Homo sapiens: one gene and its partner. The protein of the gene in region 1 purifies or fractionates together with the protein of each later gene. This does not show direct contact. Each region holds a gene or a part of one and is shown on either strand. Other genes may lie near its edges.

Region 1 (4,956 bases):
CTCAGGAATTCGCGACCAGCCTGGGCAACACAGAGAGACTCCATCTCTACAAAAAAAATTAAAAAGAAAAAATTAGCCGGGAGTGGTGGCATGTGCCTGTGGTCCCAGCTCCTCAGGAGGCTGAGGTGGGAGGATGGCTTGAGCCTGGGAGTCCAGACTTCAGTGGGCAGTGATCACGCCATTGCACTCTAGATTGGGCAACAGAGCAACACTCAAAAAGATGCCAGGCACAGTGGTTCATGCCTGTAATCCCAGCACTTTGGGAGGCTGAGGTAGGTGAATCGCTTGAGCCCAGGAGTTTGAGACCAACCTTGGTAACATGGTGAAACCTCATCTCTATCAAAAATATAAAAATTAGCCAGTCTCATAACCCAGTCTCTAGATAGATAGATACGATTTTTTAAAAAATTTTTTAAAGAAAAGAACAACAAAAAAAGAAAGCCTGATTTTATTCACGTAAAACATAAGTGAAACATTTATAATGTCCCTTCAATGTTCCTAGGAACCTGCCAGGCACTGGGATAGAGACTAATGGATCTGCAGCCTCTGAATTTACGGAGCTCAAAGTCTGAAGGAGATAGACACATATGGCAAACAATTGCAACGCATAAGACTTAACAATTGTGCTAATGGACACCGTCCAGTGCCCAGAACAAAGTCTGATATATATTTGTTGAGTAAAATGTATCACAAAAGCATCAATTAATTCATTTATTCATTCAACAAATATTTATTTTACCAGGCACTGTTCTTGATTCTGTAGAAACAACAATTAAAAAACATAAAAATCCCTGCTCAAGGGAAGCTTATGTTCCTGCATGGGGAAATGGACAAGGAACATAATTAACAAGAAATTATACAGAATATTAGAAGATGGTAATTACTATGGAGAAAACAAAATCAAGGAAGGGGACTAGGAAGTGCGGGGTGGGGATAGGCAGTTTCGATATGAAACAGAAGGGTAAAGGAAGACCTCAATGTAACGGTGACATTTGCATGCTGATAGCTGCAATATGAAGTACAAGTCACCATTTATAACATAGTCTTAAAATTGTCAAAAATATGCTTAACTTAAATCTAACAAAGCCTATAGATCTAACTTTCAGTTCATAGTAAATACAGAGAACAGAGGAACAAGTTAATCCTTAAAGAAGTAAATGAATTCAGAAAACAAGACATTTTACAAAAGAACTGTCTCAGTTTCTTCATCAAATCAATGTCACCAAAATAGTAACTGTTGTAGATTTTTGAAAAGACTGAATGCCATGTGGGGACCTGGTTTGCATTTTGATTTGAATACATCAACTATAAAAAGGTACTGGGAGAACAACTACAGAAATCTAAATATCAACTAATTCTTAGATGACATTAAAGAATTACTTAACTTTATTCATTAGGGTTAGGTGGCTATGTTAAAAAATAAAAAGTCCCTCTACTTTCTCATAGCAGTGAGAAAAAAAAAGAAAACAACAAAAAGGTATCCCTTTTTAATAGATATGTAATGAAATAATTAGAAAAAAATGACATATCTTTTTAAAAATTCAACAAAACAAGGCTGGGCGCGGTGGCTCACACCTGTAATCCCAGCACTTTGGGAGGCCGAGGCAGGTGGATCACCCGAGGTCTGGAATTCGAGACTAGCCTGGCCAACATGGTGAAACCCCATCTCTACTAAAAATACAGAATTAGCTGAGCGTGATGGCGCACTCCTGTAGTCCCAGCTACTTGGGAGGCTGAGGCAGGAGAACTGCTTGAACCCAGGAGTGCTATTACACTCCAGCCTGGGCAACAGAGTGAGACTCATCTCAAAAAAAATAATAACAAAATAAAATAAAATTCAGCGAAAAAATAGAGCAAATTTGGCAAAATACTAATAACTGTTAAATTCTAGGAATGGATATTTGGTAGGTCACTATAGTATTTTATCTACTTTTCCATAAGCTTAACAATTTGGGGGCTGAGTGTGGTGGTTCACACCTGTAATCTCAGCAATTTGGAAGCCCAAGGAGGGTGGATTGCTTGAGCCCAGGAATTCGAGATCAGCCTGTGCAACATAGCAAAGCCCTGTCTCTACAAAAAAAAAAAAAAAATACAAAAATTAGCCAGGCATGCTGCACATGCCTGTAGTCCCAGCTACTCAGAAGGCTGAGGCAGGAGGATCAATTGAGCCTCGGAGGTCGAGGGTACAGTGAGCCGTGATAGCACCACTGCACTCCCGCCTGGGCGAGAAAGCAAGACCCCATCTCAAAAATAATAATAGTAATAATAATAATGATTTTTGGGCTGGGAATGGTAGCTCACGCTTGCAATCCCAGCACTTTGGGAGGCCAGGGTGCATGGATCACTTGAGGTCAGGAGTACAAGACCAGCCTGGCCAACACAGCAAAACCCCACCTCTACTAAAAATACAAAAAAAATTAGCTGGGTGTGGTGTCACACACCTGCGGTCCTAGCCACTCTGGAGGCTGACGCAGGAGAATCACTTAAACCAAAGAGACGGAGGTTGCAGTGAGCCAAGATTGTGCCACCACTATACTCCAGGCTGAGTGACAGACCAAGTCTCAAAAAAAAAAAAAAAAAAAATGCAAAACTTAGCCTGGAGTAGTGGCACGTCTGCAGTCCCACCTACGTGGAAGGCTGAGCCAGGAGAATCACTTAAGCCCAGGAGTTCCAGGCTACAGTGACCTATGATGATGCCACTAAACTCTAGGCTGGGTGACAGTGAGCCTCTGTCTCAAAAACAGTTTTTTTGGCCAGACGCAGTGGCTCACGCCTGTAATCCTAACACTTTGGGAGGCCAAGGTGGCTGCATCACTTAAAGTCAGGAGTTCGAGACCAGCCTGGCCAACATGGCAAAACCCCGTCTCTACTAAAAATACAAAAATTAGCAGGGTGTGGTGGCACGTGCCTGTAATCCCAGCTACTAAGGAGGCTGAGGCAGGAGAATCGCTTGAACCCAGGAGGCAGAGGTTGCAGCGAGCCAAGATTGCACTACTGCACTCCAGCATGGGCAACAGAGCGAGACTCTGTCTCCAAAAAAAAAAAAAAAAAAATGTATTTTTAATTAAAAAAGAGGGCCACTGCAATTAGATATGAGGGCCATGAATTAGGAAAGGAACAGCAGGACCACATTCCAGAGATGAATGGGTCATGATTGATATTTACTCCTCTTTTGTGCTTCCACTGTACTCTGCACATACTGCACTCACAGTAACTTCAGCAGTATGATGCACCTTATCATTGACATGTCTTGTTTCCATCTACTATACACAGTATAACTTTCTGAGGTCAAGATCTGTATCTTTTTTATCTCGGTATCCATAGTACCTAGCACTTGGAAGACACTCAATAAAAGCTTCCTAATGAATACCCTATTTATTTGTAATATTAACCATTCTGCAGACATGATACAACTCCCATGATATACTCCCATCAGATCCTCAAGATTTTCTTACCTTGTAATAATGTTCCAAGAGAATCCTGACTACTCCCTCTACGCTTTCCGCCTCGACAGGCTTCCTGGCAAACTGGAGCAAGTATTGCAAAGCATCTGCTGGGGAGGTAGCTTTACACAGATCTATGTGGAGTGCTGCAGATTTACTTGGTTTTGTTAGTCGGAGTTTCTTAGTAGCAATTTCCTCCTGTGGCTGCAAGGGGTAGAGAAAATCGAAAACACAGAATCTGCAAATTTAACTTTGCCTCATTTGGTGGAAATGATTTTCCATTATACCAAATAATATATTTAGCTGATGGACTTAGGAAAATACAGTATTATAAACCAGAAAGAGTACCGGGTTGGTGACAAGGCCATGAGTCTCAATTTTGCCTTTACCAGTTCCTATGACTTTAGGCAAGTCATTTAATTTCTCCGAGTCTCAGTTTATGTCTCTGTAAAATAGGTATACTTTTTTTTTTTCTTAGAGATGGAGTCTCTCTATGTTGCCCAGGCTGGTCTTAACTCCTGGGCTCAAGCAATCCTGGCACCTCAGCCTCCCAAAGTGCTGGGATTACAAGCATGAGCCACGGTGCCCAGCCTTACACTAACATTTTGCTCTACCTATCTCTGAGGATTGTGGTAGCCTTTGGGTTTAGAGGTCACACAAAGGATCTACTCCATTTTTTTGAGACAGAGCAAGACACTGTCGCCCAGGCAGGAGTGCAATGGTGCAATCTTGGCTTGCTGCAATCTCCACCTCCTAGGTTCAAATGATTCTCTGACTGACACCCAACATGCTGGGATTATAGGTGTGTGCCACCTCCACCTACTACGTTCAAGCGATTCACCTCCCTGACTCCCAACTAGCTGGAATTACAGGTGTGTGCCACCACACATGGCTAATTTTTGTATTTCTAGTAGAGACAGGTTTTGCCATGTTACCCAGGCTGGTTTCGAACTTCTGGCCTCAAGTGATCCCTCTGCTTCAGTCTCCCAAAGTCCATTCTTTATTAGAAAACAAATATCAGACATGGCATGGTGGCTCATGCCTGTAATCCCAGCACTTTGAGAGGCTTAGGCAGGCGGATCACTTGAGGCCAGGAGTTCAAGACCAGCCTGGCCAACATGGCAAAACCCCATCTCTACTAAAAACACAAAAATTAGCTGGGGGTGGTGGTGTATGCCTGCAGTCCCAGCTATGCAGGAGGCTGAGGATTGCGTGAACCCAGGAGGCAGAAGTTGCAGTGAGCTAGGATTGCGCAACTGCACACCAGTTTGGGCGAAAAGAGCGAAACTCCATCTCAAAACAGAAGAAAAGGAAACAAATATCCGATGGGCGTAGTGGCTTACACCTGAAATCCTAGCACTTTGGGAGGCTGAGGCAGGAGGATCCCTTGAGCCCAGGAGTTCGAGACCAGCCTGGGCAACATGGTGAAATCCTGTCTCTGTTAAAAAATAATAATAAAATAAAATAAATTTCCTTACCACCTAATGGTGCGTTTTTATGTACTGAGCAATCA
Region 2 (4,956 bases), on another chromosome or scaffold:
GCAGTACATGCATATTATTTTGGGATACAGAGGTATCTACAGCAGAACAAAAAAACACAGCTAAAATTGGTTTGCCTGTGGATAAGGGATTTGTGGGGGGGGGGGATTTGTACAGGGATTGTTGCCTTTTATTAGAAGCCCTTCAGTCCTATTTGATTCATTAAGTATGAACAAGTGTTGCCTTAAAAACTAAAAGTTTGGGGACAGGAGACGAATAAAGAAAAATAATGATATATTTTATGAAATAAGAGAGAGGAAGTCTCACACACAGTATGGTGGGAATGAGTGTGGAATGGTTAAGCTGGATACTGCATAACTATGGTAACAGACGTAGCTAATTTAAGACACAAATGAGGGTGTTGGAAAGATTTAAGAGAAATATGGTGTTAAGAGGGAAGGAGAATAAATTCTAAAAAAAGGGATGCTGAGATAATCAGTATGGATGCTCTGCCATCTGACATGAGGAAAGCAGGAAAGAATCAAACCCGCCCTCACTTTTCCTGTCCTGTCTTTTCACGGTAGATTTTTGAAAGTAAACCCCTAGATATTCTTATGGAGACTCCATGCCGAGTAAAGAAAGCAAACATGATAAAATTCATACTCAATAAAATAACACAAGCAGAAAATCACATCCATTGTTAAATGAAATTGTTTCATAAAGCCTCCATGCATTTCAAAGTTTAATAACTTCATTTGTTCTTTGAGAAAAACAATTTAAAAATAACATTCAAATGCCCTTGTATTGATTTTCCCTTCAATAAAATGATTCACAATCAAGCACAAACATTTAACGACCCTTTCAAAATTCCACAGAAAATTACCGAAGGAACGTAAAAATAGGAACAAATCTCCATCACTTCTGGTTACCAGGGAGGCTGCCATTCACGCGGCAGGAACTGTGAGGGATCGACATCTTTATAACATCGGTTCTTCCCATCTGGGAACATGACATTCTGTTTCTTGAGTAAATATTGGTAATGCATATTTTCAGTGGAAATAGTCCATTTCATCAAGATTTTCACAGATGATGGGATACAATAATGCACAATGTTCTTGAGATTTTACATCTTTTCTCCATGCTGCTCCATATGTCATTTCTAGCTTTGTGAATTTTTTTGCCTTTGTATCTTAATTAGGCTTTCTGGAAGTTTGCCTATTTTATTGGCTTTCTAAAAGAACTAACTGGCTGGATAAAAGGTGGGGAGAGGGCATATAAGGAGGTGGAAAGAGTTGTTTTGGAAGGGTTGGGAGGGTGGGAAAGCATGTTCAGAAAAATGGAGTAGTTCAGCCTACCTAGAGGGTAGAGCGTAAAGGAAAAAGAGGAAAAGCAGTTGAGGCAGGTAAGGAGCTTGGGCTTTATCCGGAGGGTAGAGAAATGATGAGATTAGATTTTTGTTTTAAAAAGATCAACTATGCAACATAGTGAGACCTCGTCTCTACCAGAATTTTAAAAAAAATAAGCCAGGCATGTTGGCATACACTGTACTCCCAGCTACTTGGGAGGTTGAGATGGGAGGATTGCTTGAGCCCAGGAGGTTAAGGCTGCAGTGAGCCATGATTGCACTGCTGCACTCCAGCCTGGGCAACAGAGCGAGACCTTGTCTCAGAAAAACAATAATAATAAACTATGGATGGAGGAAGACTGGGCTGGAAGCAGGGAAGAAGGTGGGGGGACTCTAAAGTAATCCAGAGTTTCAGCCAGGGGCAGTGTGGCCATATGAAACAGGAACCCAAGCAAAGTAGCCCAGGCAGAATGGAAGGCAACATCGACATGGAAACCAAAGTCTAGCCTGGACTCATGGAAACTACTAGAATTGTCATCAATTCAGGGAGCCATGGGGATGGGGTGAAGGATGTCAAATGGTCCTTAGAGCTGCTACTGATAGAAGCCACAGGGATTTACTACTTGGCTTAGAAAGTTTTTTTCAGCCACTTCACAGCTGGAAAAAAGGCACAGAGAAAACCATTCCAGGCATTAAATGGAGCACTGAAATTTGTATTCAGGTACCTAGATCCTAAGCTCCCTGGCCTCCAGATCCTGCCCTGGAAGCTTGCAGGATGAGGCCCTATGTTAGATCAAATACATTACAGGTATTTACTGCTGGGTGGAATAGCGTTTATTTACATACTTTTGTATCTTTATTTTTAGCTGCATCTGGTGAAGTGATCAGAATCAACCTTGTTTGAAGCTGGATATATTAAATCCCCACTTTACTGGGAGCTCCCTCAGCACATGTCTGAGGAACTGAGGGTGCTGTGGTTTGGATATTTGATCCCTCCAAAGCCCATGTTGAAGGAGGGGGTACCTGGTGGGAGGTGTTTGGGTCATGGTGGTGGATCCCTCATGAATGGCTTGGAGCCATTCTTGCAGTAGTGAGTGAGTTCTCACTCTTTTCATTCCCATGACAGCTGGTTGTTAAGAAGAGCCTGGCATCTCCTCCCCTCTCTCTTGCTTCCTCTCTTGCCATGTGATCTCTGCACACGCCAGCTCCCCTTTGCTTTCTGTCAGGAGTGGAAGTGGCCTGAGGCTTCCACAAGCTGCCCAGTCTTCCAGCCAGTAGAATCATGAGAAAAGTAAACCTTTTCTCTATAAATTACCCAGCCTTGGATATTCCTTCATAGCAACACAGGCAGACTAAGATGGGGATCTGCCACTCAAGGTGGCAGTGCTGATAGATTTCCCACGGCCCTTAGATTTATATCCCTCATCCCCACCCCACTGACCATACCACAGCCCATCTAGCCCTGTTTCATTGAGCCTGGGGATACTAGCACTCAGCTGAGAGGACACCACTGCTTCTTCCCAGGAAAGCCCCTTGTTGATACTCATGGGCTGGGTGATATTGGCTGGCACCATCTGTACTCTAACTTTTACAGAGTCCTTAAAGAATCTAGGCCCAGTGTTTGTTCTCTTCTCTAAAACTCAAATCGATGTTTTCCTTACTATATTTGTCTTTGGACACTTTGAAGAAAAGAAAGGCAAATATTTAGGTCCATGGTGCCATCTTGAAACCTACACGTGCGTGTTTATAACCCTGAACCTGCAACTCAGATCTCGGGTCCCAGCCATGACACATGCATACGTCTGCCTCTCTGCTGGCCATCCCCACCTCAAACTCGTCTTGTCTAAAACTGACCACTGTCTTACACAAACCACTTCCTTCTTGGCTGTGCTGGATTCCCCAATTTAGAGCACCAAGCAAAGTAGGGCTCCAAATATTCTTGGAATAAATTTGATATATATTTTTTGAAGCATCAAAGTAGTCACCATGGAGATGTTATAACAATGAATAAGATACAAATGGTACAGTTCTAATTTTTTAAAGTTTCAGAGAAACAAGTCTGATGTACTTTGTTTGAGGATGCAAATTTAGATTATAAAATTATAAAAGCAAGCAAGAAAATGGTTACCATAAAAGGAAGGTGAGTTGTTACCTCCAGGGGGAAGCAGGGTGTGGTTCAAGGGTGCACTGGGCTCTGGGAGCTGGCTGTGTCCTGCTTCTTGACCTGCATGGTGGTCACACGGGCATTCACTTTATAATATTTCACTAAACTGCACATTTGTTTCATGTCCTTTCCTATATCTGTGTTATGTTTTATATATTTTAAGGTTTTTTTAAATAAAGTAGTCATTACAAGGGAAAGAAACAAAACTTTTGTGGACTTTCATAGTTATTTTGATAAAGTTGGCCACAACTTATCTTCCATCATACAAAATGCCAGAAGACAAAAGAATAATATTTGGAGTTTTTAGGTAAAAAGATTAAGATGAAGAAGTGTATGCCCCAAAAGGATGATGTTACTGTGAAACAGCAACATAAAGAAGTTCTTAGGCAAGCAAGAACTACCGGAATATACTATCTTTCCTGAAAAAGATTCCAACTAATCAAGGAATAAGTAAAAATGAAGATTGAGCATAGGAAATGGACTGAGTATTGTAACCTATGTAACTCTCAGTCTAGATAGCAGCTGTTAGTATGGTTAGGAAACATAAATGTCAAAAATAATTCTGGAAAGCAAAAGCATGCATTACTTTTTTTTTTTTTTAAAGACAATAATCTGGATCTAAAAGCCAAAATGTTTTTAAGGCAAAAAGTTAGTGGGGGTAGATGGGCAACAAAAAAGAAATTAAAGCTGGGCACAGTGGCTTACACCTGTAATCCCAGCACTTTGGGAGGCCGAGGTGGGTGGATCACCTGAGATCAGGAGTTTGAGACCTGCCTGGCCAACATGGTGAAACCTGGTCTCTACTAAAAATACAAAATTAGCCGGGCGTGGTGGCAGGTGCCTGTAATCCCAGCTACTCAGGAGGCTGAGGCACAAGAATCACTTGAACCCAGGAGACAGAGGTTGCAGTGAGATGAGATTGTACCACTGCACTCCAGCCTGGGTGACAGAAAAAAAAAAAAAAAAAAGGAAGGAAGGAAGGAATTAAAGTATACTAAATCTCTCATTATTTATGAAAGAACAAATAGACACAACTTTTTTTTTTTTTGAGACAGAGTATCGTTCTGTTGCTCAGGCTGGAGTGCAGTGGTGCAATCTCGGCTCACTGCAAGCTCTGCCTCCCGGGTTCATGCCATTCTCCTGCCTCAGCCTCCCGAGTAGCTGGGACTACAGGTGCCCGCCACCACGCCTGGCTAATTTTTTGTATTTTTAGTACAGACGGGGTTTCACCATATTAGCCAGGATGGCCGATCTCCTGACCTCACGATCTACCCGCCCTGGCCTCCTGAAGTGCTGGGATTACAGGCGTGAGCCACCGCGCCTGGCCAACACAACTATATTTTTTAATGTTAATGAAGACTAGTAGAAAAAAATGGGCAGAAAATTTCCCTTTTATCTAAAGAACAAGGGACTCTTACACTACATTTAAGTTAAGAAAGGGGGTGGAAAAATAGCTTGGAATTTTTTTAATGTAAAATAAAATTTTAGAAGATCTGTGACTGTATCACA

The links. Proteins that work in one complex are often made in the same cells at the same time.
Region 2: the proteins of INTS4 (region 1) and ADD2 purify together in Homo sapiens (affinity purification with mass spectrometry; one large-scale study listed by BioGRID and IntAct). This does not show direct contact.

Annotation. Positions count from the first base shown.
Region 1 is NC_000011.10:77,987,653-77,992,608, forward strand, and holds part of INTS4 (integrator complex subunit 4), read right to left. Parts: intron 3,648-4,956; coding exon 3,456-3,647; intron 1-3,455. UniProt on the Homo sapiens protein: Component of the integrator complex, a multiprotein complex that terminates RNA polymerase II (Pol II) transcription in the promoter-proximal region of genes.
Region 2 is NC_000002.12:70,757,195-70,762,150, forward strand, and holds part of ADD2 (beta-adducin), read right to left. Parts: intron 1-4,956. UniProt on the Homo sapiens protein: Membrane-cytoskeleton-associated protein that promotes the assembly of the spectrin-actin network. Binds to the erythrocyte membrane receptor SLC2A1/GLUT1 and may therefore provide a link between the spectrin cytoskeleton to the plasma membrane.